Homo sapiens: one gene and its partners. The protein of the gene in region 2 interacts with the protein of the main gene of each other region in a pairwise test. Each region holds a gene or a part of one and is shown on either strand. Other genes may lie near its edges.

Region 1 (7,859 bases), on a different chromosome or scaffold from region 2:
AGACCTGTTGACTCTGGGAAGGGGAAAGGGAAAAAACACTGGCATCCTGACTGCAGGGAAACAATGAGGCAGCGGAGAGCAAGTATCCCTCATTGCTGAGGGAGCTGCCAAGACCCCAGGCAGCCTCAGTCTGTGGGGTGCGGCCTGTGGGGTGCGAGGAGAGGGGCACAGGCTGGGAGCTCCGGTCAGTCCTGGCCCTCCTAAAGGGCTTGAGTTCAGCTGCCTTATCAGGGAACCAAGCCAAACCAGCACAGACCTAAGGATCACCCCATGGATGGAAGCCCACCCTTCTTCAGCCAGTCTACAACTCCTGGTATCCGGGAAGGTCTGTGCACACACAAGGTGTGCACACACACACACACACACACACACACAAGGCGTGCACACACAGCTACAGAGTGAGCTGAGTAGTCACAGCCAAGCACATGTGTGCTTCTAGGAGGCCTGCTGGGCACGGGAGGCAAAGACCATAAGTGGGAGAAAGGACAGCCTGAGTTTCATGAACTAAAAATATCTTGGTGACAACGCATTGGGAAGAAACAGGAGAGGCCCGGGGGGCAGCTTCTTGATTCCAGTCCTCAGACACTTTCTCATGGAAAAATCCTTCAGACTGCAGGATTGTTTTGATAAGGAAATGTGATCAAACATTAGGGGTCATTTCATTGGATCTGAAAGGAATTTAAAGTTGAATATGCCTCATCTGTGTTCACTCTTTTTTTTCTGCAGCAGTTGCCTGCAATTCATATATGTTTTTAGAAGCTAATTTAAAATTGCCTGCAGAAGAAAAATGATTTGAATTCAGGATATTCCTGAGATTTCCATTCTACAACGTGTAAAACAAAGATTTCATTTAGACAAACTACCCCACCATAATCTTTCTGAATGCCTGTTGAAGAATGCCTGCAGATATGACTGTCTTCTCCTCTTCTTTTTCTTTTCAGAGCATTTGAAAGTCACTAACTCCTTAATCCCAGGAGAAGCAGGCTTTAACATTTCCTGTCTCTACACCTTCCAAAAATGAGTAACCCTGAGTTAAGAACCTTTCTATCCGACATGTTGGTACATTACTCAGACCTCACTTCTGTTTAACCCACCCCATGCAAGGAACAGAGCAGAGTAACTACATTATCCATCTTTTGATGCTCCATCATGGAGTGACTGGTAGCTGCAGCAGCAGATTAAGAATGACTGTGGTGTGTGGCCTTTAAGGATTAGAGCGAGGCTGGCAAGTGCACAACAGTTAGCCTGCTTTCAGATAATGGTGCATCGTTGTTTGAAAATAAAATCAGGAACTCATTGCAGGTGAAATATCTTGAAATTCCTGTCCTTTCATCCCAGGGGAATAGAGAGAAATGCCTAAAAACATGACACGGACTACACCAGGACATCCCACAGAAACCAAAAGTCCTGCACCAGCCCATCCCAGTCAGCTAGGGCCTGTTTGAACTGTATTGATGGCAAGTAATTGCCAAAAAGAAACAATGACAATTTTTTTTTAAGTCACGGTCTGGAAAAAGTTAAGGATTCTGTGTATCCGCCATCTAATAATGTCTCTAATCACAGTCATCACCCTTACATGGTATTAGGATGTGTTTCATAGTTTCCCTTCCCCTCCCATTAAAGGCCCCACACACAGTGACTGGTCCAGCTGAGGAGTGGTTTCCAGGTCCAGCTACAGCAGTAACTCTGGCTTCTGGAGCTGGGCTTGTCTGCCAGTTCTCTGGCCTGCCTTGACTCTGTGGACAATAGCACAGACTATCCTTCCTGGGTAACCCAAATGGGACATGAACTAATTCGAGAAACTCCCTGTTTTCTCCTATTTGGCTAGAGCCAGTAATAAGGCCTCAATTCCAGGCAGCCCTCCCGCAGAGACACGTGTCTCCCAGCCTTTCGCCCTGACTGCTGCTTTACCTCTTGCCTTGAGAGCAGACGAGTGAAACAGAAATCAAAGCAGTTGACATGGAAGGGGGGTGAGCACCTACTAGGCATTTGGTAGCATGCTGGATTCTGGGAGGTAGAAAAATATCAGGAAACAAAGTCCTTTCCTCAAGGGGGTAACCAACTGGTAGTGGGAGGTAAAATTAAAATATGTGAATAATCGGTAAACAAAACAAGTCTTGAAGACCACCCATTACCACTACCCCTCTGGGACTATCCTGGCTTTGTTTTATAAGGGAATTTGACACACTCATGTTAGATCACCACCCCCCATCAATTTACTGATGAAGAAATCCAGGCTTAGTGGAGTCAGAGTGAATTGCCTAAGTCATGGAACCACAAGAAGTGAAGAACTTGAAACCAAGTTTCTTGTCCTTTTAAAAAATTTGGCCTCTTGTTCTCCTGTTCCTTTAAAAAAAAAAAAATCCCCCTATTCTAAGATACCATCTTGAACTTGAAAGTCACAAGAAGCTTGATTAGCTTCTAAGATCAAGTTCTGGCATTTCTCCCCCTTGTTCCCAAAGGCTCCGTCCAGCGCCAGGCTGGGAGGGCTGGAGGGCGGCTGCGGAGAGGGGCCGGGAGGCGGCTCACAGCCAGCACAGAGCTCAGCAGAACTTCCTGGCCCAAAAATGTGCTGTTGATTTTTTTCCCCCCTGCACGAAACAAGGATTGAGAAAACTGCCACTGACGTGTTCTGGGGCTGAAAGCCAATTACTTAATCTTTGCCATCCCTGGCTCTCTCTTTGGAGAAGTGGGGCTTGAATTCTTGAGAGAAACTTGTGGGGACACTAAGTACCCAAACGAATGGTTCCCAGGCAGCTCCGAGCTGTCCCCGTGTGCGAGCCTCCTCTCCTCAAAGGGTTAACCCGGCGGGGCTCGCTGGCCTGAAATACTATACTAGCAACACATCCTTGCAGCACAAACTTCACTGTCATTTTCTCAGCTAAGATGGTCTCTGTGCGAACAAGTTAAAGGAGGGGAGACGAACACAGAGGAAAGTAGAGGCAGAATGTTTCAGTAAAGGAGAAACAGCGTGCTTTGGGAAATAGGTCAGAGGTGAAGAAATAAGACCAGGCAAGTGGCAACTCCGAATAACTTACCTTAGATCCACCACGGACAGACAGACTGGGCCCGGAGGGTAGTCGGCTCTCGGCGGCTTCTCGTCTCCCTCCACCTTCTCCGGGCCCAGGTAAGTAGAAGAACAGGCTCTGAAGCAGGAAGTGGAAGCTGTATGCAAATTTCTACGGAGCCTAGGAAGCCTCTGCTCAAAATCTCCCTGTGGGCAGTGAATCAACGGCTGAGGAGTCACTTTATTTCTTAAAACAGAAACCTCCTTCATTCATGAGAAAGGGCCAGTGACCAATTAGGCGGCATTTTTGTTTTCGCCACCCAGCTAAGAAGCTGCCCAGGAGTGGGCAGAACCTCAGTGTAGTCGCAGTGCCCTCGCCTGGGAGGGTGTCTCCGGGAGGAGATTGAACTCGAATGTTAAGAATTAGTAATCATTAGCAGCTCCAAAGGAGGGGATTGTGGGCAGATAATGGGGAAGAAGAGGGAGTCGAGCTTCTTCCACCTCCTCTAACTGCTTAAAACATCAGCATTGCCGAGCGCGGTGACTCACGCCTGTAATCCCAGCACTTTAGGAGGCCGAGGCGGGAGGATCACGAGGTCAGGAGATCGAGACCATCCTGGCTAACAAGGTGAAACCCCGTCTCTACTAAAAAATACAAAAATTAGCCGGGCGTAGTGGCGGACGCCTGTAGTCCCAGCTACTCGGGAGGCTGAGGCAGGAGAATGGCGTGAACCCGGGAGGTGGAGCTTGCAGTGAGCCGAGATCGCCACTGCACTCCAGACTGGGCGACAGAGCGAAGACTCCGTCTCAAAAAAAAAATTTAAAAAAACCCAAAAAATCAGTATTTGCTGCCCATAACCACTGGGGGGGTGGGGGGGGGCTCACTGACCATGCTCCTGGACACACGTGTACACACAGCATACACATGCCTGTGGCTTGTGCACACACACCACCCTATTGTCAGGCACAAAAAAAGTGGTTAATTTTAAGAACACACACACACACATACATACACATGCACACATGCACACTAACCTCCTCTGGCTGCATTTTCCTGACCTCAAGATTTTTTTTCTCCCCTTTCCTTCCCATTGTTTAATCAGTAGCCTGCAGAATTTATTGCATGAAGGAGCGCTGCAGGCAGGATGATACCCAGCGATGTGAACAGAGAGAGAGAGAGACAACTGCCTTTCGGGGCAGCAGTCAGTAATGGGAGCAGTGTTAGCTGGAGCTTTGGAGTCAGGAGGACCTGGGTACGAACTCAGCCATGTCACTGGCCAGCTGGGCGCCCTGGGCAGACACACCATGCTCCTGGTGCTGGACTTGTCTGCCTGTTGAAGGGGTCCAAGTGTCAGTCCACTCAGCCGGCTATCTCTCTACTCTCATCAAGGGGACAGGCCCCAGAGCATCCCTGTTCAGATTGTACCAGGTTCTGCTCAAGCAGGATACAGGAAGCAGGTTGCTCAACATTCCACAAGCAGAGAAAATGCAGCTTGTTTTTAACACAGTATACACAGGTTGTTTGCATTTGGTTTGCAGAAAATGATGCAGCTATTAAAAATCATCAATATGTATGTATTATCTGAGCCACTAACATGAAAAAGTGGCTCTGAGATATTATTTAACTAAAAGTATTATCTTATTTTTTGCCAATATATGTGACATATACACACACATAGATATGTATATCGATTTTTTTTAAGAGACAGTGTCTCAGTCTATTGCCCAGGCTGGAGTGCAGTGGCGCAATCATAGCTCACTGCAGCCTTGACCTCCTGGGCTCAAACAATCCTCCTGCCTCAGTCTCCCGGGTAGGTGGGACTACAGGTGCACACCGCCACACCTAGCTAATTTTTAAATTTTTTCTAGAGACAGGTCTCCCTGTGTTGCTGAGGCTGGTCTTGAACTCCTGGTCTCAAGGGATCCTCCCACCTTGTGAGCAGCAAGCCACCCAGGTGCCGAGGCAAGAGACCGAGGACACGAGCTGTTCCAGTACAATAAAATATAAAACAAGAATAGTTATACCAGATATAGATCTTAGATATGATTATATATGAATATCATTAATCATTAGTTTGTAGCAATTACTCTTTATTCCAATATTACAATAAACCTTGCTCTATAATCATAACCTAGGAAAAACCAGGCCATACGAGATAAGAGCTGAGGGGACACAGTGAGAAGTGACCAAAAGACAAGAGTGCGAGCCTTCCGTTATGCCCAGACAGAGCCACCAGAAGGGCTCCTTGGCCTAGCGGCGATGCCAGCATCTGGGAAGACGCCTGTTGCCAGGCGGACCGTGGTCTAGTGGTAGCGAAAAGCGTCAAGGAACAACACCCGCTACTTAGCAGACGGGGAAAGGGGTTCCCGGGGGAGTTTAGAAAAGACTGCCCCTCCACCTCTTGTGGAGGGCCTGACAGCAGTCAGCCTTGCCCACAGTTATCCGGAGGCCTAACCGTCTCCCTGTGATGCTGTGCTTCAGTGGTCACGCTCCTAGTCCGCCTTCATGTTCCATCCTGTACAGCTGGCTCTGCCTTCTAGATAGCAGTAGTAAATTAGTGAAAGTACTAAAAGTCTCTGATCTACAAAAATAATGGCATAAACTGTCTTTCTCTTTGTCTCCTCTCTCTCTCTGCCTTGGCTGCCAGGCAGGGAAGGTTCCCCTGTCCAGTGGACACGTGACCCACGTGACCTTACCTATCATTGGAGATGACTCACACTCTTTACCCTGCCCCTTTTGCTTTGTATCCAATAAATAACAGCGCAGCCAGACATTCGGGGCCACTACCGGTCTCCGCGCATTGGTGGTAGTGGTCCCCGGGGCCCAGCTGTCTTTTCTTCTATCTCTTCGTCTTGTGTCTTTATTTCTACACTCTCTCGTCTCCACACACGGAGAGAGACCCACTGACCCTGTGGGGCTGGACCCTACACCACCTCAGCCTCCCAAAATGCTGGGATTGCACGTGTGCCTCACTGCACCCAGCCCAACATATAGATTTGTGTTTGCTCACCACTGGGCCCCAGGGGACCTAGCACACTGCCCTGCCTAGGACATTGTGGGCAATCACTGTGTATCTGTTCAGTGACCAAGTTAGAAATATCTGGAAAGATGTATGCCAAACTGTTTAGTGGTGCTCACTTCAAGGGAATGCGATTGAGGAAAATAAATAAGGATAGAGGGCTTTATGATATATACATATGGACTATTTGATTCTTTTTTTCACAATAACATGTAGGACTTTTTCATTTAAAAGAATGAAGTTTTTTAAAAAAGTTTTATTACCTTGGCTTTGAAGTTTCTGCTTCAAAATTATTATTAGAGTCATCTTTTGGAGGGTAGGAAAAAATAGCATTTTCTGTGGTCCGGTTGGTACCAGGATACTTTGAGAGAGCTACTGGAGTTAGGAAATGGGAACGGAAAAGCAAAGAAGAATGGCAAGGGGAGGAGCTAGCAGGGAGAGCGAGGGGAGCAGGAATGGAAATATTTTTCATTTCTCTTTGTTGTCCTTAAATGGATTGGGAAAGGCCTGAAGATGCTCTGCCGAGTACCACCTCTGAAATACAACCCGCCAGGGAGAACAAAGGGAAACTTTTCTCCAGTTCTCCACCAACTGTTTTCCTGGGTGTGAGACCTAAGAGCCCTGTAGGAAGAACACAAGTGCCGAAGTGCTGCTTTTCATTGCTGTTGGCTGGGCCTTCCTCTTGTCTACAGTTTGTTTGTTTGTTTGTTTGAAACGGAGTCTTGCTTTGTCTCCCAGGCTGGAGTGCAATGGCACGATGTCGGCTGACCGCAACCTCTGCATCCTGGGTTCAAGCAATTCTCTCACCTCAGCCTCCCGAGTAGCTGGGATTACAGGTGCCTGCCACCACACCCAGCTAATTTTCTTGTATTTTAAGTGGAGACGGGGTTTCACCATGTTGACCAGGCTGATCTCAAACTCCTGACCTCAGGTGATCCGCTCGCCTCCTGTCTAAATTTATCATGAGCAGAAAGGCAGGCACTTCAGGGAATGAGTTCATGGTTCCCTCTTAGAAGCCTCTGCTGGGGCTCCGGGCTGAAAAGCAGCCTGAGGATGGCCACTGTTTAGAGAGGGTGTCCTGAACAGGAGAAATCTCCTCTGAACCTGCCTGAGGCAGTTATGGTGAAGTACAGGTGACCCAGGCGAACACACACAGCTTTTGAATTGCTGTCACGGGAGAGCAACTCTTCACTGAGGACCTACCCTACACTCCCTTTGAGCATATCTCATCCTCCAAACAGTCCTGTGAGGTGTGTTTACTGTCATTCCCACTTTAACTTTGAGGACTCTGAGGCTCAGAGATACTGAGTAACTTCTGCAAGGTCACACAGCTCATCTATGGAGGAGTCAAGCCCAGAGCAGTCTCCCTTCCAGGTGGATGTTATTACTGCCCCCTCCCTGCACCCCGCCACAGCCCCCCAACCCCTACCCTCCATTGCCCTGTTGCCATCTGTTCTTCCTACATGCTTGGGTGGAGCACAGGTAACACACTTTCTTTGCACAACTCTTGACAACGCTTAAGAAGGGAAAAAAAGGTGTAGACAATAAAAGGGTGGGGTTGTGACTGTGCCACAGCCTGGTGCTGTGTTTATATGTAAGGATTGCTGTACAGATCATAAATAGAATAGTCAAGATGTGGGTCAGTCTTCTCTCTCTTGTTAGAAATCTAGAAGGGGAGCATGTGTGTTTGCCAGATCCTAGAGTTTGCTCAGTGAATTCGTCAGGGTTCTGCAGAGAGAGAATCAACAGGATTACCTCCGTGATTATGGAGGCTGAGAAGTCCTGTGACAGGCTGTCTGTGAGCCGGACACCCCAGGATGCTGGTAGCATGG
Region 2 (4,289 bases):
GTCCTGGCTCTTAGTAGGACCCTCTGCAGCCAAACTAGCATATCCTGAGCCAGGCTGACCTTAAAAAGTAAGCATTCAGGGCCTAGGGACCTTGGGCAAAGCAGAGAAGCTGGTGTCAGATGAGGTGCAGCAGGTACAGTAGGATAAGGTGTTCTCAGGTCGCCAGTGCAGCCCCAAGATGAGCCTGCAGTATTTTCCTTACATGATCTGGTCCTACTGTGGGCAGCGCTGCTGCCCAGAGCCTGAGAGGATTATGAAAACATGGCAACGGAAGTGAGGCCAGGGGACACAGCATGGGGGCATGAGGAGCAGGGGACAGCGGGTGGGGCTAGAGGAGAGGGAGGTTTAGGGAGGCCTCTGCTGCTGTGACTGTGAGCCCCAGCCAATGATGACGTGGCCACCGCACAATCTGAGTTCTGGGAACCATGTGATGGAATGTGTTCTGGGAATAGACTGCAGCCAGGAAAAAAAAAGCAGAAGGGTGCACCCTCCCTTCCTCAGCCAGGAAAACATTTCTGTAGCCCTTGCGGACCCAATGCGCAGAAGTGAGAGGGAGGAAAGCCAGGCTCATGTTTCCTTGGTTGTGCTTCAACTTCTAAAATATGTTTTTTCTATGAACATTTTAATGAGGGGTTGGACATAAGACAGAAAAATAACATTCTGAGAGCTCGTTTGGAGGTTCTAGCAGGGGAGCGCAGCTACTCTTATACTCTTGACTGAAGACCGATCGTCCTCTATCGGGGATGGTCATCCTCTTCCATTGAGCACACAGCTTCTGGAGGGACGCACATGGAGTGGTGAGGGAGGAAGGGGATACCCGCCTAGTCAGCCAGATCAGCCGAATCAACCCTGATGATCAATGGGGTGACACATGTCGCAGCCAGATCACCCTCACATCCCAAAAATAACACTCAGATTGCTTTTTCTTTTTTAAGATGTAGACTTTTCTTGAGACTTTCGTACAAGGCAATGGACAGATAACCTTAACCTCCCAGAGAAAACACACATTGGCCACAGAAAAAGGCGCTTCTCCGTATACCTGCCATAGTTATCAGCAACTTTGAAATGGCTTCTCAGACTCTCAGGGGTTGGCTTGTTGTGTTTGCTTTTGCAAATAACTCAGGCTTAAGTCCTGCTACTTTCAGAGCCTAGGGGACGCTTAAGGACTACCATCAGTTTAACACAGTGGCACTTGGAGCACATGCTACTTATGGTGGTGAGGAGGGGTGCTGGTGTGAGGGTCTGAACGCTTGCTTCTCCTCTGGCAGGGTGTGAGCAGCCAGAGGCCACTACCTGGGCAAGGATGCTTGCTCAGTGTCCATGGAGGGACATGTGATCCAGCAGGTGGGCAGGAACCAGGCCCCTGTGGCCGCCCAACTCTCCATAATAGAATCCTTGGTCATCCATGGGCCCGTAAACCATGACCACGTCTCCTGCCCTCAGCGCCAGCCTGCCCTTCCCCTGGCCCCCCATTTGCCCATCCCCAGGATCATAGTCCAGAGCTGCTATCATGATCTTTGGAGTCCACAGTGGGAGTCTCTTGGAGTTCCCCTGGAGCACCAGGGAGGAACCCTGGGGGATGGTGAGCCCCTGAAAGTCCTCGAGGTGGGCCACAGAAGGCAGGTTCCCTTGGGCCGGAGAACGCCACCTCCTATCAGTCTGCTCTGTCCCCACCTCCATCTCAGCCACTAGGCGCCCGGGGATATTGCCCACTTGCCTGTTGCACTCGCTGAGGTAGAAATCATGGGTGTCCTGAGAGCCCCACACTCTTAGCAACTGCCTTTTCTGGAAGACCAGCTCCTCCTCTGCAGCCTTGAGGTTGGCAGACATCACCAGGGGGTTGTAATCAGAGAGGGCCACAAAGACCCTGGCTGGAGTGTTGGCCCCCGTCCCCAGCTGTTGGGGGCCACCCCTGGGCATCTTGATGACTTTGGCGGATGGAGCTGGACACAGTGCCGAGCTGGGCTCATGGAGCTGGCACCCTCTCTTCACCCCCAGAGCTTGTCCTTGCCTGCTGTGGGGCTCAGGCTCCCTCCTCTCCTCTCGCCTCTCTGTGCCCCACAGATCCAAGCACAGTGCCTCCTGCTCCTCCTTCAAAACGTTATGGAAGTCAGATGCATACTGTTGGCTGGCGCCCAGCTGGGGAGGTGTGAACCCTTGGGCATCTTGCTTTTGCCGAAGTACCCTCTCAAGGGCAGCCTTTTCCTGACACGGTTCTTTCCTGGGCCCACACTCGGTGCGTAGATGGATGAATCCTGGAGCAGGGCTTTTGCTGGTGCCCATGTGCTGGGAGCAATTTTCCTTCTCCCCAGGCTGGTCACTGACTGAAGGTGGCCTGTGGTTCTGGGGACTCTTCTGAAAGAGCAGGTCCTTTCTACAGCCCTCCCAGGCCTCTGCAAGCTCCTGGGCTTGGCTGCCAGCCCCTGAACTCGGACATTCTCCTTCTGAGCCCAGGTTGGACACTGGGGATTGCCTCCTTGGGGGTTCTTCAAAGAATGCTTCTAGGAACTTGGCCTGGGGCTCCCCGCAGCTTCCAGGGTTGTGGGGGCTGGCCTTGGCACTCGGAGGAGCCAGTGACAGCTTCTGGGGGCAGACGGGGAAGGTGACTCTGTAGGTGGATGGGTCGCCACAAGTGTAGCTAAAGGGTGGAGTCTCTGGCCATCGGTGACACATGAAGAAGTCCTCGGGGATCTGAGCAGGCACTGAATCCAGGGACTCACCACAGAGTGACATGGTTCTCACTGAGACCTTCTGCCACGTGAGGGGCACCTGTAGCTGGGAGAATTCCAATAGGGTGCTCCCAGCAGTGGCATCGGCGACCTCACAAACCTTAAGCCCATCTGCATACACAGCATAACCGGTGACCTGGACTCCATTGGAGGACCCAGCTGAGTCAATGGTCACAGGGAGCCAGCTGACCACCAGGACACCTGGCGAGGCATGGCGCTCCACCAGCACATCCAGCGGTGGGTAGGGAGGTCCTGCCAAGAGTGTGTCGAAGGTGACGGTGGAGGACATAGTTCCCCAATACACCTGCAGCAAGTCCCGTGGCAGCCGCACCTCCACCCGCGCCCGGTAGTGCGTGCCGGGGCACAGGCCCTGGAAGGTGTAGCAGCTCACGCCCGCTGGGGTCAGGGCATGCTCTCGGTCATCAAGATATACCACATGGGGGTGGCGGTGGCTGCTGTAGACCCAGGTGATGTTGGCTGATGTGGCTGTGACATTCTGCAGGTGTAGCTGCATGGGAGCCATACGGAGCACCCCTTTGGTCCCCAGAAGGGGTCTGGAGAGGCCCTGCTTCCCCATGCTCTGCAGCAAGCCCAGCTGGCAGGCTTCCGTCTTGGTATCCAGGATCTCTGTTGCTACTTCTGTCTTGGAGCCCACCCTGACCATCTGGCACAGCCCTCTGTCCACCACTCCCTGGGCTTTCCCAGATAATAAGCTGTCTTCCTCCAGAGCTTCATCCTGCCCCGCTGGGAGTTGACTGGGGCCAAGATCAGGGGATTTGGCAGGCAGGCAGCCTGGGATGTAGCTGTCCGGAATCTGCTCCACGAAGTTGGAGGGCACCAGCCCCCGCCGGCCATCCTCAAGCTCCCCCTCATAGAAGCCATCCTCATCCATGTCCCCGAAGATATATATGTAGTCCCCAGCTGTGAGGGGCAGCTCACCCTCAGGGTGATCATTGGGCCCCTCAAATGGGTTGTAGTTATACTGAGCCATGAAGATCTTGAGCTTGGGGGCAGCAGGAGCCGCCGAGCCCCCCATTTCCAGGGCCAGGGACACGCTGTCAGGCTCCAGGTCATCCACCTCACTGGCTGTGTCCCTGTCCAGAGTAGGGGAGGACGGCACGGTGGCCCACATCGACCCCTCAGAGGAGGAGTTTGACTGGGAGCTGGTTTTCTTGGACAGAGGTTGGCTGGCAGGGACTGTCTCTGAAACTTGGGGGACACTGGCTGACTCCCCAAGGGCAACTGGGCTCTCCTCGAGGGAGGCTTCCCTTTTCTCCTGTATGTCTCTGTTGGGCTGTGACACTGCGTAGTCTTCAGGCCGTGCGTGGAACTTGGGCCTTCTGCTACCTTTAACTTGGGACTCCGGCATTTGACTGGTCTCCCAGGGCTGTTCAGGAGGGTGACCAGGCCGACACTGGAGCGCCTGTATCTCCTTCCAGGAAGGATGGAGGTCACACAGGGCCTTCTGCGGGTCGCGTTGCAGCTGCTGCTGCCTGTCCTGCCCGCGCGCCGCCTGCTGCAGCAGCTGTTCGGCGATCAAGCCGGAGGCATCGCGCTCTT
Region 3 (7,684 bases), on a different chromosome or scaffold from region 2:
TTGATCGACAGAGGATAAACACCATTTTATCTTATTCACAGAAACAGTAACCAGGCTCCTGCAAAGTGCAGCTCTCACAATCCAACTGCCCCCAGGAAAAGCATCTGGAAAAGGAGCAGCACTCTTGCGGTGACATTCTGTATTAGAAATCTGTATCCCATCTGCTCCTTGGCCTGATCCTGTAAAATCTGGAGAGTTATTAACAAATGTTTGCTGCTGATTCAACCAGGAAAGCTAGTTCATCATTTCATTTCATCAAATCTACTCCAACTAGGTTATCAGTTTTTTGTTGTTGATGATGGTTTGTTTGTATGAGATGGAGTATCGTTCTGTTGCCTAGGCTGGAGTGGTGGTGCAATCTCAGCTCATCACAACCTCCACCTCCTGGATTCAAGTGATTCTTGTGCCTCAGCCTCCCGAGTAGCTGGGATTACAGGCACACGCCACCATGCCAGGCTAACTTTTGTATTTTTAGTAGAGACGGGGTTTCATTATGTTGGCTAGGCTGGTCTCGAACTCCTGAACTCATGATCTGCCTGCCTCAGCCTCCCAAAGTGCTGGGATTACAGGCATGAGCCAACATGCCCGGTCTAGGTTATCAGTTTTAATGACCACTTAGAATTTTTAATTTAATAAACTAAAATTTTGTATTGAATATTTTTGATTGATGCAATCCAAAAATTAAAACATGCCCTTTTGTAAAAAATCATCGTCCTGTATAAGATATGCTGGTATCTTGAGAGCTCTAATTTGATTTCTTTTAAACATATGTAAGCTAAGATTTTTATCCTATATAGATTTATATGTGGAGTTTTATGCATATATGTATTAACAATCACATGGAGAACATTTTCCAAGTTTGTTTATTCAATAGGAATTGGTCCCTGGTAATATTAAGAGAGAAATACTAATAAGGATGTAAGATAAATCCTTCTGATTTGCACAGTTAAGTGCAATGCTCTGCTCCAGATGTAATATGACTAAAGAGAATTAACACATGACAATTTAGGCAGACAGAATGTCTAAGTGAGCAGATTGGTTTATAATTCTATAAAATCCCACCTGCAGTAGTGATGTAGTGATGCCTTCCCTCCCTCCAGCAATTAAAAACTATTCATTGTTTTAGGATGCCCAATTGATTTAAAAATCACTAGGTTTAAGTAGTAGAACTAACTACAATATCTTATTTCCATAGGATATTCTAGTTTATAAAGCTTTTCATATACAAGAACTTATAAAGATTTTTAATGGCAAATTTCTTATAGTTGATGTCAATTCAGTATGCCTAGTTTCTTCAAGGTAACTGTGTCAATATTCACCATTCCAATTGTACAAATCTGATTAACTGAAAGATGCTCCCACCTATCGTTTATAAGCCCAACTCTGTTTATGTAACACAATGATGTCCAACTTCACTGGACATTAACTAATGTACCTATCAGTTAAGAGGCTAGATGAGGCCGGGCGCAGTGGCTCACGCCTGTAATTCGAACACTATGGGAGGCCAAGGCAGGCAGATCACCTGAGGTCAGGAGTTCAAGACCAGTCTGGCTAACATGACGAAACCCCACCTCCAGAAAAATACAAAAATTAGCCAGGCATGGTGGTGGGTACCTGTAATCCCAGCTACCCAGGAGGCTGAGGCGGGAAAATCACTTGAACCCAGGAGGCGAAGGTTGCAGTGAGCCGAGATCGCACCATTGCACTCCAGCCTAGGCGACAGAGTGAGACTCCACCTCAAAAAAAAAAAAAGAGTCTAAATGAAAACAGTGAAGAGAGGACATAAAGGTCCATGTGGAAGGTGAGAGAAGAACCACCCCCATATGGGACCTAGAAGAAAACAGCCCTAAAAAGATGTAATTATAACTCAGTCCAGATGCTGTGACTAACACAGTGAAAGATATAAAGGAACAGAGGTTTATAAAATCTCCTACCTGCCTGGCAGGGGACTGGCAAAACATTGTGCACAAATGAAATTTTTTATTTCTATTGATTTTAGTATTCTATCCAGCTCTTCTACTGGGATTCTGCTTAGTGCTTATCTTTCCATCTGGGGCCTTCAGCATGAACTAAAATGTACTTTAAATTATTAGATGTAATTAAACTCTAATGCCTCTGATTATTTGAAATGGAAGTCAGAAATCAAAATCAGGTTCCATGGGGGGAAAACTGTGTTGGCACATATAGATGTTCATCTCAGGAATCCTCTTTCTAACCTTCTTTTCCGAAGATCCCTAAGAGTTCCTCGCCATTCATGTACTTACTACCAACTAATTATAATTGGCACCCTACGATGATGATAACAATGATGTTAATAAAATCTCTTACATCCTCTTACATCCTGCCACATGCCAGGCACATAGGTTAACTCATTTAATCCTCCATCACTCTATGGAATGGGTACTATTGCTACGCCATTTTTCCAATAAAGCAGCTACAGCTTAGGGACACAGAGAAATTTGCCCCAGGTCACACCACTAATAAGTGGTGCAGGAGTGAGTCCGGGCAGTCTGGCACAGGCCACCCTGTGAACAAAGGACAAATGGAACACTGGGAAGCATCAAGGCTTAGAACTGAAGAAAACTTTTGAGATCCTTTATTTGACAGAGAAAAGCAAGTTGGGTTCCCCAGCTTGGGTTTTTGTTAGAATGAGAACCCAAGAGCAGAACCTGAACCCTCTGTGGATACTTTTCCATTATACCACTTCCCACTGTAAAGCATTTCTAATTCAGCCTGATTCTCTGTGAAAATTCTGAGAGACGAATTAATAGAATCCCTATAGTTAAACAGGAATACTCCCTTCACTCCAAGTCTCACCTTCCTTGCTGTGCCCAGACTCATGGACTGACCTAGCCAGAGACTCAGTTAAAGGAGACCCATTTTGTGACTTGGAGAGACTGACAGGCCCACATCACAGAGGAAATACATGCAGACACAGACATGGATATGGTTTAGCTTTTTGTCCCCACCCAAATCTCATCTTGAATTGTAATCCTTAGGCCTGAAGGAAAGAATCTGGTGAGAAGTGATAGGATTATGGGGGTGGTTTCCCCCATGCTGTTTTCATGATAATGAGTGAATTCTCATGAGACCTGGTGGTTTTATAAGTGTTTGACTTTTCCTTCTGTACACACTACTTCTCTCCCCTGCTGTCACATAAGAAGGCCTAAGCTTGCTTCCCCTTTGCCTTCCACCATGATTGTGAGTTTCCTGAGGCCTCCCCAGCCATGCAGAACTGTGAGTCAATTAAACCTCTTTCTTTATAAATTACCCAGTCTCAGGTATTTCTTTGTAGCAGTATGAGAACAGACTAATACAGGCACCATGAACATAGTGACAGGATAAACCATGGAGGCATTGATAAAAATAAAAAGTAATTGTGATGAATGACTTGGTTGCAATTACACTCAAATTCTGTTAGTGTCTGAAGAGGACATAGCACCTCCTACCTGGAGGACATACCCTTTTCCCCATGGAAAAAATAATTGGGCTGCTAGGTCTGTGTCTGCTAAGGGAGTCCCATATTTAAACTGACCTAATTCAGAACTTTAAATTGAGACTCAGATGCTCCCAAATAGCAGCTCCACCAACCTGAATAGAGTTACTCATTTAGAATAAGAGTTTGTTCCCACAAGTTTTGTTAAAATACAAATTAGTTGGGATGCGGGGTGTGAGTGATAGGGACTAAAATCGCTTAACAGACTAGCCTGGCAAAGCCCTGTGGGAAGCAAGTTTTGATGATAGGGAAGAGAAGATGTCAAGAGCAGATGGTCCAGGGAGGAAGTGTCACAAGTAACTTGGGGGTGATATAAGGGACTTGAGTAGCAGGTATTTGTCTGATCTTTAAGGAATTAACTTATTAAAGAATTTTGTTAGTAAAGTCATTTGAGTATCACACTTGCAACATACTAATTCATCCATGTCTAGTTTTCTCATTAAATCACAGATATTTAACAGGTGCATTAACTTGAATTGACATCATGCAGCAAATGCCATTATATGGACCCTTAAGATATTTTAAGAGAAAAACCTATAATGCCTGGAAACTCTTAGTTTTCTCTGACATTTAAAAACAAGCCGTAAAATCAAATCCTTTCTATAATAATTTAGTAACTCAGAATTGCAAAGGATTTCCTAAAGCCCAATGATCCAAAGCTCTGACCTGTGATGTTGGCATAGCAGAGTGGGAGACAAATCATATGTTAAAGCAGAAGGCTCTGGATCTGGAATGCTTGGATACAAATTCTGGCTCTACCACTTGCTACAATTTAACTCTAGGCAAATTACTGAACTCTGTGACTATTTCCTCTTCTGTAAAGTCAGGGTTGTTTCAATAATTAGATCAGAAATTGTAAAGTGCTTAGAATAATACCAAGCAAGTGTGCATAAACTTTAGCCATTTAGCTATAACTCTCATCATATTTCTGTGTTGATTACAAAATGCTTTACTAGAGGAAAATAGATGAGAAAGAGGCCATGAGGTAAAAATGTACAGTGCTTTTTAAAGTAGAATGAGGTGGCTTAGAAATTAATTCTATCCCCATCACTGGCTTGTAGTAGAAATTTGAAACAGTCTCTCCCTGATTCTCTGGCAGTTTTTCTCTTTTTTTCTTTTTTTTCTTTTTGAGATGGAGTCTCACTCTGTCACCCAGGCTGGAGTGTAGTAGCGTGATCTCAGCTCACTGCAACCTCCGCTTCCCGGGTTCAAGCGATTCTCCTGCCTCAGCCTCCTGAGTAGCTGGGACTACAAGCATGTGCCACCACAACTGGCTAATTTTTTGTATTTTTGGTAGAGACAGGGTTTCACCTTGTTAGCCAGGATGGTCTCGATCTCCTGACCTCGTGATCCTCCTGCCTCAGCCTCCCAAAGTGGGGGGATTACAGGCGTGAGCCACGGCGCCCGGCCCTCTTTCAGTTTTTTCTAAGACAGAGACACTCCCTATCACAGACAGGGTCTTCTAAATTAGTAGAGAATGATTTGAAGGAAACTGGGTAATTATCAGAGGAAGTAAAAGAGAAATACAGATCCTCACACCAGAATGCAAATCTCTAAGACTTTATTATTTTCATCACTATGAAAGAAAAGATCAGTACTCAAAGCCACTTATGATGATGCATGTAAATTAGCATAAAATCAGAACAAATATAATATGGCTTTTAAAATAGAAACATAAGGCTATCTTTCCTTACAAGTGTCAGATTGCTTCTGTGCCACTGTAACACAGAGCTTTAGATGGATTTTTTAAAGCTTCACTCAGAGATCAAATGTACTCCATTAGTCAGTGATTGGCAGACTTGGTGAAAATTGAGTTTTCAACTTAAATTTCTCCAAATTGGTCTGAGGAAACCAGATGCAGCAACTAAGTTCAGAAGGTCAGAGTCTCAATAAGGTTAAAAAGAGAGGGAGAAACATAACACTAGAAGTATGAATGAATGAAATAGACCACACACAGCTCATCAGGTCTCTATAATATACCACGCAAATAATTGGTACCAGGACTATTGAATAATCAACTGCTTTTAAGCTGAAGAATATCTACATTGTATACCATGATTACCACTTTACCAATTCAAAAGACAACTTAAAAATTAAACATATATACAAAGACATTCTGCTTTTTTCATTAGGCCATGTCATTCTATAATTTCTAAATTCTGTCAACTCTCTTCCCCAGGAATCTTCTAGAAGTCAGGCATTTTGGGAATAGTTGAGTATCATAATTGAATAAAGATAGCACAACAGTCACCTGTAGTAGTCTGATCTTACAGGTACTAGAACAATAACAGCACAAAAACAGAGTTACGTGTATGTATTATTCAGTGTTCTCTAGAAGAAAACATAGTATATGTATATATAGGCAATACATTTATAAATGCATAAAACAAATATAAATTTGTGTAAGTATGCATATAAATATGTAAGTCTACACATATAAATACAAATAAAGAGATTTATTCTATGGGATTGGCTCATGCAATTATAGAAGCAGGAGTCCCAAGATTTGCAGTAAGCAAGCTGGAGATTCAGGGGAGCCCATGCATAGTTCCAGCCCAAGTCCAAAGGCTTGAGACCCAGAAAAGCAATAGTGTAAGTTCCAGTCCAGAAGCCATCAGGTTAGAGACGCAAGAAGAGCCAATATTTCAAGTCCGAAGATCAGGAAAGGCCAATGTCCCTGCTCTGTCATGCAGGCCCAGCTCCCTCTTACTCAGCTTTTATGTTTTATTCAGGTTTTCAATTGATTGGATGAGGCCCACTCACATTGCATCTGCTGTTAAAATTTTCCAAGATCTTTTTGGGGTTAAAAACCTATCATTCATCTCTCAATCTTCAGTGTTGACAAGGACAGAGCACTTATGAGTATTCCTGTTTCTGAGTTTCTGATAAGCTTGTCCAAGTGGAGCACAGGCTGGACAATTTATAAGACAGTATTGAAGTCAGAGCAATTACAAAAGGAAAGGGGTAGGTTTCTTGTGTGATGTGCTGCAAACACTGACCTCTCAGAATTTATTCGGCCCTGTGTGTATATACGTATTCATGTCTGCACATATGTGCTAGTTCACTTATACATCTATACATACACACAATCACATATACCCAAGATCTGATGGAATAGACATGAATTTGGCTTAGCCAGGGAAATTATAGAAAGAATAATGGGAATCCTAGGCATGTGGGAAATGGGAAACAAGGACAAAGGCGCCTAGGTAAAATAAAAAGCAACTGGTGTGCCTAGGAGACCTGATGGACTTGAGCATGGAATAGCTCCAGACTTGTATTGAAAGAAAATCAGGAAAGTCAAGTTACGACCAGGTCATGGCAGGCACTGAATGTCAGGTTAAGGGGCTGAACTGTTTCTTTCTAGTTAGTGATGGGTCCAGTGAAGGATTTGGGGCAGGAGAATACTAGAAGGAATATTTTAGGGAGATTGATCTTCCAGTGGTGTGCAGAACAGATATGCCATGCCTAGAGGGTAGTAAGCAGTGACATTTCTTTCACTCTACACTTTAGCTGAGCTCAGGGTAAGTCCAGTAATGGAAGATGGGGTGGGAAATAGAGCTAGGAGTGTAGAGAGGGCAACAGGTAAGGATACATATGTACCAAAAGCAGAAAACAAGTTAAGATCCAGGCTTCATGAGGTGCCTATATTGAAGATTGCTCTGGATAAAGAGACTGTTAGGACTTCAGAGTTAGAATTCATAGCAATTCACAGAACTGCTCAGGCTCTTCATTATTCACCTGACTCAACTCTCCTACATCTGCTCCTTTCTCCTAAGAGATTTCCTTGCTCTCTGTCCTTTCTCTACCCCACAGCTTTTGCTTCCTTTCCGTACATAGAACCACACAACAAGTACTAGTTTTATGCATGCAGTGGTCATATAAATATCTTATTGGCGAGTCCTCATCAAAACTGAGTTGAAACAAACCATTTGAGCCAGAATTTAGTAAGAGTCAGATTTTTTAAGGTACTTCAAGGATTTTATTTATAAATACAACTAGGAAAACATTTACTCATTAGAAATGATGAAACCATAGACAAAACAATTATTAGAGAAAATTTTGAATTATTCTTTTCTCCTGCTGTCTAATTTCTACCTTTCTCATGTAGTCTTTTTCTTTTTAATTAGATTTTTTATGTGAGTATATGGTCCATGTATTTGGCTGGTGGAATAAATTCAATTATTC
Region 4 (4,159 bases), on a different chromosome or scaffold from region 2:
ATAGCAGGCAGTAGAGGAAGTGAGCTGCCAGCACTGGGCTGCAGGGCAAGCAGAGTACCAATCCAGTGTTTACTTTGTTCTAGGCTGTTTTGTCGTGACCGTTCAACTTGGAGAAACCAATGTAGTTCAGTAAGGCATATGATTGACTACATAATTGATTAGTATTGGTTAGGAAAGTTGCCTCCTGTTTTGACATGTTTTCCTGTGAGAAAACCATGTTTAACTTACATCTTTTTTTTTTTTTTTTTTTTTTTTTGAGACAGTCTTGCTCTGTCGCCCAGGCTGGAGTGCAATGGCATGATCTCGGCTCACTGCAACCTCCACCTACTGGGTTCAAGCAATTCTCCTGCCTCAGCCTCCCAAGTAGCTGGGACTACAGGTGTGTGCCACCATGCCTGGCTAATTTTTTTTTTGTATTTTTAGTAGAGATGGGGGTTTCACTATGTTGGCCAGGCTGGTCTCGAACTCATGACCTCGTGATCCACCTGCCTTGGCCTTCCAACGTGCTGGGATTATAGGCATGAGCCACCGCGCCTGGTCTAACTTACATCCTTTTGCTCTTAGAGCAAAACCTGCCTGAGCTTAGGGTATCCAGCCCAGCACCCTGCTCTTGTGGGCATAATATAAATAACATTTGGTGGTGATGCTGCTAGCAAATAATTCCCAATCCCATGTTTCTTCATTTTCCCTTTATTCATTTATTTAGAGTCAAGGTTTTGCCTCTTGCCTAGACTGGAGTATACTGACATGATCATAGCTCACCGTAAACTCAAACTCCTGGGCTCAAAGCAGTCCTCCTGCCTCAGCCTCCTAAGGAGCTGGGACTACAGGCATGTGCTACCACATCTGGCTGAATTTTAAAATTTTTTTGTGAGCCAGGTGCAGTGGTTCACGCCTATAATCCCAGCACTTGGGAAGCCAAGGAGGGAGGATTGCTTGACGCCAGGAGTTTGAGACCAGCCTGGGCAACGTAGCAAGACCCCATCTCTAAAAAAAAAAAATTTATGGAGTCAGGGTCTCGCTCTGTGGCCCAGCTCAAACTCCTGGCCTCCAGCAGTCCTCCTGCCTCAGCTTCCCAAAGTGCTGAGATTTTAGATGTGAGCCACCACACCTGGCCCTGTTTTCTCTTAATGATGTACTGCCTCACCTCTCAGTGGACTCTGCCGACCGTAATGTCCCTTTCTGCCACATTGCCACTTACCAGCTATTTCTCCTTCAGCTGGATAGCTTTAACTTAAATGAATTTTATTTTCCATCACCTAGGTTAAGGGTGGCAAATAGGTTTCAACTCTGGGGCTATTACTGATTAATTAATAACGGCTGCCTGAGTTCTGGGTTGATAACATTCAGAGGCAAATCTAGCTCAGCAGGGAAGAATACTGATTGATTGGCAATGTCTGTGATGGGCACAGGGATAGGACTTGGGGCACTCATGTCTAAAATACTCAAAAAAAGGTTAAAAATCAAGAAACCTCTTAACACATCAGATTATGAATGGTGGTTATCTCTAGATGGTCAGGTTACAGAGGATTTTAATGTTCTTTTGATAATGTTCTATGTTTTCTACCTTTTTGATAGTGAACATGTATTATTTTAATGTGCAGGAAAAAATAGCGTTATTTTGAAAAGGAAAGTCTTATCGGAATGAAACCAATGATTTGAATGTGCTATTAGTGCTAGATTCTGTAGTTGCAATATACCTAGCAGTGGGGTAGGTGTCACTGCCTTTTCCTTTCCTCTACTCTGAGAAATCCTTTGACCCTGGGCCATCATTCTTGCTGTGAGATAGAATGTGTGACTGGCTGATTCATGTGTCATCTTCCAATCGGGCAGGTCGAGGTGGTGCATCTATCTATGGCAAACAGTTTGAAGATGAACTTCATCCAGACTTGAAATTCACGGGTAAGTGTATAATTTGGCTGGACTGGGTAGGAACGGGGATTTTAAAAGCTCACTCTTTTGGCCATGATTCAAGGTGAATGCCTGACACCGTGGCATGGTGCCAGATAGCTGCCCAGCCATGGCGCCATGAAGTGCCCTGGTGGATTAGAGAAAGCAGCGCCTCTCACAAAGTTCTGAGCAATTCAGAGCACTGGTCGGTGTGTTCTAGACTCTAACTACTTGTTAAAGGTCACAGGATATCAAAAGTGTCCTCAAAGAAACAGGAAACCTTGCTGGGTTTTTGAGGGCAGTCAGGAACATGGTCCACAGTTAGTGAGGAGCATCAGGGGTCAAGGCTGGGGAATAGGTGAGGACAAGGAAGATGAAGTCGCCAGAATAGTGTAGTGATGGCCTTTGTACAGGGCAGAGAGACTGCCCTGAGGGGTTGTCTGGGTCTGGACAGAGGCCAGAACAAAGTCCTGGCTGCTTTTTCATCCCTAGGATGGGGCAGCAGCTCTACACTGGACCTGTGGGGTTATTTATACTCTTTCCTTTCTTCCTTTTTCCCACCAGGGGCTGGAATTCTCGCAATGGCCAATGCGGGGCCAGATACCAATGGCAGCCAGTTCTTTGTGACCCTCGCCCCCACCCAGTGGCTTGACGGCAAACACACCATTTTTGGCCGAGTGTGTCAGGGCATAGGAATGGTGAATCGCGTGGGAATGGTAGAAACAAACTCCCAGGACCGCCCTGTGGACGACGTGAAGATCATTAAGGCATACCCTTCTGGGTAGACTTGCTACCCTCTTGAGCAGCTCTTCTGAGATGGCCCCAGTGAACCAGCTTCTAGATGACATAGAATGACATGTAATGCTAAATTCATTTTGGCTTTGCAAGTCATGAAGCTTAGGAGGCCTGGCATCTTGGGTGAGTTAGAGATGGAAGTACATTTTAATAGGATGCTTCTTTTCTCTTCCCCCAGTGCCTAGGTTGCCAGAGCATTTGCACAAATGCCCCTGTTTATCAATAGGTGACTACTTACTACACATGAACCATAATGCTGCTTCTTGTGCATGTCTGCTCTGATATACGTCGAACAATGTAGCAGCCACTGTCATTTCTCAGTGGTTTTGCCTAACCAAACTTCTTCCTAAGGAGATTTATATTCTGGCCTACACAGCAGTCCTTGATGGCTGACAGCCACAGAATTCCAAACCAAGTAGTGTCTGTCAGCCCTCTTAACTCTGTGCACGCCCTATTTCAGTCTTTTACATTTGTTCTTCTAGGGAATGTATGCATCTCTATATATATTTTCCCTCTCAAAACCAGAACATCAACAGTGCTGTTTCTGACACTTCAGACATCCCACGCAAAGCCACATTGAATTTTTGCCAAATGAAAAACACATCCAACAATCAAGTTTCTAAGAAGGTGTCAAGTGGGGAATAATAATAATGTATAATAATCAAGAAATTAGTTTATTAAAAGGAAGCAGAAGCATTGACCATTTTTTCCCAGAGAAGAGGAGAAATCTGTAGTGAGCAAAGGACAGACCATGAATCCTCCTTGAGAAGTAGTACTCTCAGAAAGGAGAAGCGCCACTCAAGTTCTTTTAACCCAAGACTTTAGAGAAATTAGGTCCAAGATTTTTATATGTTCAGTTGTTTATGTATAAAAATAACTTTCTGGATTTTGTGGGGAGGAGCAGGAGAGGAAGGAAGTTAATACCTATGTAATACATAGAAACTTCCACAATAAAATGCCATTGATGGTTGAAATTGCTGCTGTGGTCTGATTCTAAATATTGTATGAGGTTCCAATGGTCATTTTAATCCCAGTCATCTTAAGTAGTAGTACAGAGATTGAATGTTCAAGATTTCACATCATTTTAGGCTTGTGGATCTCCAGTAGACTTCTCCCTCTTTAAGAGCAATTCTAACTTTAAAAGGGCAGAACCAGAGAAAGAATTAAGTGACAGAAATTGACATTTCTGAATAAGAGGTGTATTCATCTGTTTTCACATTGCTATAAAGACACTACCTGAGACTAGGTAATTTATAAACAAGAGAGGTTTAATTGACTCACAGTTCCACATGGCTAGGGAGACCTCAGGAAACTTACAATAATGGTGGAAGGCAAAGGAGAAGCAAGCACCTTCTTTACAAGGTGGCAGGAGAGAGAGCGAGCACGGGGGAAACCACCATATTTAAACCATCAGATCTCATGAGATCTCCCTCACTATCGTGAGAACAGCATGCAGGGGGAAAATGCCCCATGA

What was found.
Region 1: the proteins of RIMBP3 (region 2) and TRAF3IP2 interact in binary tests that used the Homo sapiens proteins (3 or more experiments, as listed by UniProt).
Region 3: the proteins of RIMBP3 (region 2) and A1CF interact in binary tests that used the Homo sapiens proteins (3 or more experiments, as listed by UniProt).
Region 4: the proteins of RIMBP3 (region 2) and PPIL1 interact in binary tests that used the Homo sapiens proteins (3 or more experiments, as listed by UniProt).

What each region holds. Positions count from the first base shown.
Region 1 is NC_000006.12:111,602,738-111,610,596, forward strand, and holds the start of TRAF3IP2 (E3 ubiquitin ligase TRAF3IP2), read right to left. Parts: upstream 3,142-7,859; 5' UTR 3,039-3,141; intron 1-3,038. UniProt on the Homo sapiens protein: E3 ubiquitin ligase that catalyzes 'Lys-63'-linked polyubiquitination of target protein, enhancing protein-protein interaction and cell signaling. Transfers ubiquitin from E2 ubiquitin-conjugating enzyme UBE2V1-UBE2N to substrate protein.
Region 2 is NC_000022.11:18,605,204-18,609,492, forward strand, and holds the end of RIMBP3 (RIMS-binding protein 3A), read right to left. Parts: coding exon 1,312-4,289; 3' UTR 612-1,311; downstream 1-611. UniProt on the Homo sapiens protein: Probable component of the manchette, a microtubule-based structure which plays a key role in sperm head morphogenesis during late stages of sperm development.
Region 3 is NC_000010.11:50,875,063-50,882,746, reverse strand, and holds part of A1CF (APOBEC1 complementation factor), read left to right. Parts: intron 1-7,684. UniProt on the Homo sapiens protein: Essential component of the apolipoprotein B mRNA editing enzyme complex which is responsible for the postranscriptional editing of a CAA codon for Gln to a UAA codon for stop in APOB mRNA.
Region 4 is NC_000006.12:36,854,329-36,858,487, reverse strand, and holds the end of PPIL1 (peptidyl-prolyl cis-trans isomerase-like 1), read left to right. Parts: intron 1-1,833; coding exon 1,834-1,902; intron 1,903-2,454; coding exon 2,455-2,675; 3' UTR 2,676-3,659; downstream 3,660-4,159. UniProt on the Homo sapiens protein: Involved in pre-mRNA splicing as component of the spliceosome. PPIases accelerate the folding of proteins. Catalyzes the cis-trans isomerization of proline imidic peptide bonds in oligopeptides. Catalyzes prolyl peptide bond isomerization in CDC40/PRP17.